2 separate regions of the Homo sapiens genome follow, and region 2 is linked to region 1. The links come from fine-mapping of genetic effects on gene expression. A gene starts in region 1. The other region holds a variant in brackets. All regions are shown on one strand. Distances are between the middles of the regions. Region 1 holds the start of FASTKD3 (FAST kinase domains 3). Region 2 has its middle 62 kb from the start of MTRR.

What was found.
Region 2: its variant is fine-mapped to the expression of FASTKD3 in monocytes (Fairfax 2014, PIP 0.95).

What each region holds. Positions count from the first base shown.
Region 1 is chr5:7,867,213-7,869,971 of GRCh38, forward strand. It overlaps FASTKD3 (FAST kinase domains 3), which reads right to left and starts at 1,819. Exons shown (of 7, transcript NM_024091.4): 1 at 1,767-1,819; 2 at 1-984. The coding sequence starts at 871. MTRR (5-methyltetrahydrofolate-homocysteine methyltransferase reductase) reads left to right here and starts at 1,936. Exons shown (of 15, transcript NM_002454.3): 1 at 1,936-2,003. RefSeq lists silencers at 1,829-2,268, 2,279-2,328, 2,389-2,438.
Region 2 is chr5:7,930,081-7,933,098 of GRCh38, forward strand. No RefSeq gene overlaps it. Among named protein-coding and RNA genes, the nearest start is that of MTRR, 62 kb to the left of the region's middle. The variant G/T (reference allele first, on the strand shown) is at 1,202.

The DNA of each region.
Region 1 (2,759 bases):
GGTTGGAAACTATTGATAGGGAAAAGTTGTTTATCTTATTTAAAAATGTTTGGTGTTCATCCACTTTTTCAGTACATGCCTGCAAGATTCTATAAAGGGCCACAATATCCTCCGGGGTAAATGTTTCCAATTTTTCACCTTGAAGTTGATTTATAATGAGTTCTAGTGTCACACAACCTGAACTGTGCAGTGTAATCAGACTTTCCCCAAGAATACAAAGATTGCGAACTTCCATGCCACCTTTTCTGAGACGATTTTGGCATTCTGCCACCAGGTTCAGCAACAGGCTACTTTGAGGATCCACATGCAACAGAATCAGAGCTTGCAAAGCAGTCACTAAACTAGTGTTTGACAGCTGTGAGGGCTCCTTTTCAAACTGAAAGCATAAAGCTTGAAAGATGCTATTCTCCAGTATTTCTTTTGGCAGCCCTTGATCACCATCCTTTTTTTCCACTTCACAAATTCGTTGTAAAGCTCCTGCTGCCATAGTGTCAGGCAGGGTTTCCATCGTGCTTATAAAACTTAGCACTTCTTCTGATGAAGTCAAGTTGCTCAGTCTCCTGTAAAACATCTGACTCTCCTCATTTTTAACATTTTGTTCAAGCCTGTCGCAGTCAGATACTTGAGAGAACACTGGTCCACCGAGTGGATGAAGGTCATTTCCATTTTTCGAATGAAACTTTTTACAATGGGCATGATGGAATTTGACCCCGAAAGGCTCAGGTTGTCGTGAACACAACCAAGGGCACAGACGCTCCTTGACTACCTTGTGAACATGATTTAGAGGTTTATTTTTTAAAGCAGCCAGAGCTCTATGCATCTGAAAATCAGATAAACGATAAAGGTTCTTCCTCAAGGTGATTAATGCCATACCATCAGATTCTCAATTTGATAACTAAATTAAAAAATTTAAAAACACATGGTTAAATACATTGAGAACATGATTGACCCAACATCAATGTTTATGAAACTACAAACGAGTATCTGGAAAAAAAAAAAAAAAAAAAAAAAGGATGGTTAACATATAAACACCAGAGGGGCAAAGTCTCTGCATCCTAGAGTTAGAAGAGTGGCTGACATTGAACAATAACAATCGCTATTACTTGCTAAACACTGTTGTAGGTATTCTATTAACTTACACAGATTCAGTACTTTTACTATCATTTTACACGAGGAAGAAGTTGAAGCACAAAGTTACTTTGCCCAGTTTATGCAGGTGGTTAAGTGGCAGAGCTAGGGTTCAAACTCAGGCAATGTAGCTCTTAAGGGTGGCCCTTAAATGTTGGTTGAAGGAAGAAATTGCATTTGGATAGAAATCAAAGAACAGGTAAAGTGGGCAAAATTAGGCGAGGTTAGAGCAAGGCAAGGGTAAAAACGCGCTGGAAAGGCCCTAAGCTGTTGGTTTCCCCTCGGTGTCGGGAGAAGGTTAGTGTTGAAGGAAAGGGTCTACTTTGTCAATGGAAACAAGGTAGGAAAAGAAAAAGCAAAACATAGATCAATGAAGGGAGAAGGTGGGGCGGCCAGTCCAGATCTAAAGACGGTGCGGGGGGATTTGGCAACACGTGTGTGCAAGACAGACAGACGGGAGGCCCCGCGGCGCGTTTTCCTAGGAATGAAAGGGACCCGCGGGGCGAGCACCCCCAAACTCGGCGCCCCGGGGACCTGCGCTGAGACACGGGCCGGGCGGCGCAGCCTGAGGAGAAAGCCGGCCAGGTCTTTGACACCCAGCCGGACCAACTGCGCGGAGACCCCGCGTTGACACCTACCGCGCTCTGCCGGGCAATCACTCCGGGTGGTCGCGGAAGCGCCTGGGCGTCGTGGGCCTCCGTAGCAAACGCGGGGCGGGAGCACGACTCAGGGCGGCGCAATGTGATTGGCCCAGGTCCCCTTCGGAGCTTTCTATTGGTCCTGGGTACCGAGCATGGGCGCTGCGTCAGTGCGCGCTGGCGCAAGGTTGGTGGAAGTCGCGTTGTGCAGGTTCGTGCCCGGCTGGCGCGGCGTGGGTAAGCTGCCTGTCGGCTACGGTTCCCGGATTCCGGCCGCTCGCCCTGCACTAATCTCCTGGGAGAGGCGGCCCGGGGCGGGGGTGGGCAGCCGGCTTGCGCCCGTGGTTCCCACGCCCTTCGGCCTCCGGGGGTCGCCGCGGGCGCGGGCTGGGGCTCGGACTTGGCCTTTGGCCTTTGGCTTTGGTGTCCCCGGGAGCGTGTCCTTGGGCTCGGCGTCGGCCTCTGCCGCGGGAGGCCCCTGGGCGGCGTGGGGTCTCTCCTCATGTTCTGCCTTTGGTTCTAGGCGCTTTCCAGGCCTAGGGAAACCGCACTCGGGGACGCGGGGAACTGGGGAACATGCCGGGTTGGGGCGGCGCGCTCCGGGGAACCCGGGACGTTCCGAGCGCCCACCCGGCGGGACGCGGCCGTGAGTTCTGCCCGCGGCCGTGAGCTCTGCCCACCGCCTCCGCGCCGCTTCCGGGGCTGCTGGGGCCCGGGCCTCCGCTGAGAGTCGTGGGAAGGTGGTGCCGGATTGTGGGGCAGTAGCAGGGATGAGGGGTTGATTGATCCTGGGAAGCCCTCAGGATGTGTGTTTCATGGGAAGTGATAGAAATTTTAGCTGTAGTAAGGTTTTCATTATCGTTTCCACCGTTTTCTGTGAGCTGTCAATGTGTAGTGTTTTCATATTGTTTATTCACTCATTCAGATAACTTATCGAGTACCAGTTTCATGCCAGGTGCCGTTCTGGGCGGTTCATTCACCGAAAGCCAAGCT
Region 2 (3,018 bases), 63 kb after region 1:
GGCTTCAGAGGTGAAGAGTGATATATTGCAAGCACACTTCAAGCCATGAGTGCCCATCCTTGCCAAAAATCACATCCTTTAAATGCAACAAGAATTACATATGGCCGAGTGACAATTCAGTCTATAATACAGGAGCACAGCTGGGGGAGCCATGGGAAGCACTGCAGGTCACAGCGTGAAGTTGATGATTGTGTTTCGCCAGTTTCCTCTAAGAAGTGGATTGTTTTCTTGAGCTTTTTTTTTTTTCTTAAGTAATAGTCTTATACTTTTGGAATAGTCTTATTTTTATTTGAAAAAGTCTTTAGGAACAAGACATCTTCTCACTTTTGATTGAGAATATTCAAGATGTTTAATTCGAGGTAACAGGCATTTAGTCTGAGAATCCATTCCCCTCATCCCCGCCCCAGGAGTGCCTGGGTTCGTGGCATTTGATAAAATGAAGAAAATAAATGTGACCACACAGATATTCACCATGGATCTCCCATGTTCCTCTGTCTGAATAACACTATGGAATTCTTGGAAGCAGCTTGTGTGTTTTAATCTTGGAAGCTCAGGAATTCCACCTGGTCTGCACCTGCAGAAGCTACAGTAGGCACCCCACCTTGCTGCTGATGCAGTTTCTGTGCCATTGCTGGTGGAGGCAGCGGAGCAGAGGCGCAGGCACAATGAAGCGGGGACGTGTTCTGCAGATTGCTGCTAAACTCGCCTTATTCTGACTTTTGGATTTCATGACATTCCAGGGAGCTACCTGCCATGCTGTTGGCCTGGAAGCCCACCTGACTGGTCCATAGTGACGTCCTGAAGAGCCAGTCTGTAAAATAACCAACAACTTGTTTAGCTTTTGGATAGACTCCACACCTCCTCTTTCTCTGCAAAGAAAAATCTTGAATATTTATGGATGACAATTAGGGAAAGTATTGAAAATAGTGAAATATAATTAAAAACAACATGTATTTTTCATGTTATGAAAAATATTGAAAGAACTGATATTAATGAAAATTAATATTTTATTTTCCATCTCCCCAGTGTAACTAATTTGTGGCAATCACCCCCTACCAAGAGCAGTAATGCTGTGTAAAGCTGGCTTTCTGGAGTCCGCTGGATCCATACGAAGTGTGATCCCTGGTTTCCTCTGTTACTTGCTGCATCCAAGCCAGGGGAGCAGGAGATGCTCAGCTCTGGTGCCTTTGATTTTATGTCA[G/T]TGCTGCCTTCCTGCCTGCTCAGTTCACCCACCCCCGTTTCCCTCCGTATGGAGGCAACAGCATTTCAGGATGTACCTTGGGGTGTCAGGGTAGCTGCAAGTAAGGGTTTTTATGATCCTCATGGTCTCATTGATACAGACAGGAGACAGGGAAATACTGGATAGAAGAGGGTGGGTTGCTGGCAAAGGCTCCACCCTCAAGCCTGAATACCTGTGGCCCTAAGTGAGAACAGGCATTCCTGTTTTTGTGCCCAAAAAGCTGCCTTTTGGCCCACCATGCCTTCTATCCTATACCCTTATAAACGCCAAACCCCAGGCTCCAGAAGCAGGTGAGAAGATGAGGAGACAAGCCGATAAACAGCAAAATGATGCAACAGAGAAAGAGAGAAGAGGAGGAGTCTCTGAATGCCAAGAGGAGCTTGGCTGTGGATGGTCAGAGAGGAGTTTAGCTGCTGGGTGGCCAAACTCTAGGAGAAGATCCCACTCTATCCCCCTTCCAGCTCCCCATCCATCCTACTGAGAGCCACCTCCACCACTCAATAAAGCGCCCGCATTCTCCACTCTTCAAGTCCCTGTGTGACCCAATTCTTCCAGGATGCTGGACAAGAGCTCAGGATACAGAAAGTTGTCACACTGTCCCTCTGCCCTTGCAGAAAGGCAGAGGGGGCACAGAGCTGGTTAACACTTAAGCCGTCTGCAAGGCAGAGCTAAAAGAGCATTGTAACACTGGGGTTGCAGGCACCCACCCCAGATGCTACTGTGGGGCCAGAGCCCAAAGCTCTCACCCCAGCTCCTGCACCTTCCCGTCTGTGTGGTCCCCCTCCCGTAAGGGGGGTTTGAGCTCACGGCGGTGGAACAGAGGGCAGCACCCCTGTGAGGGGATTGCATGCCCTGTGAGGGGAACCAGGGAACTCTCCTGTCTTGTTATCACTGATCATTGATAAGCATTTCAGAGTGGGATAACATCATTCATAGAGGTTCCCAAAAAGAAAAAAAAAGAGATACATTTCTCACAAACGGATCCATAACCAGGACATTTTGATTTCTTCTAGTTTTTGATGATTATGAAAAAAAGCTGCTATAAACATTTGCATGCCAGTTTTTGTGTGGTCATACATTTTTAATTCTGTTGGGGAAAACCAACAGGAGCACTATTGCTGGATCATATGATAAGGTTATGTTTAGCTTTGCAGGAAAGTACAAAATTGTCTTCTAAAGAGGCTGTATGACTTTGCATTCCCACCAACAATGAATGAGAGTTCCTGTTGCTCCACATCCTCACCAGCAATTGATATTGTCGATGTTTTGGAACTTAGTCATCCTAGTGGGTGTACAGTGGTGTGTCATTGTTGTTACCTTTTAAAATTATCATTTAGCAGAAGAGCGATTGGTTTAGAACAATTTTAGCTATATTCTAAGCTATATTCTCGCCAGCCGTGGAAGAACTTTTGTTTTCCTGTGACTCTATAGCTTTTGCTCGTGTTTTCATGCCTCTCACTCCTCCTCTTGCTGTTACATGAACCGTCATGTGGTGGGTATATGCAGTGCTATCTGCCACCTCTACTGGAACCTCTTTCATAATGCATTTCTTCTTTAGGCTGGAAAGTTTGGGGTTCCTGCCAAAACTTTCTGGGGACACTTGTCACAGTTCTAATTTCTGTATAACTTTTTTTTTTTACTTTTTCTTTTTTTAATTTATTTTTTATTATTATTATACTTTAAGTTCTAGGGTACATGTGCACAATGTGCAGGTTTGTTACATATGTATACATGTGCCATGTTGGTGTGCTGCACCCATTAACTTGTCATTTACATTA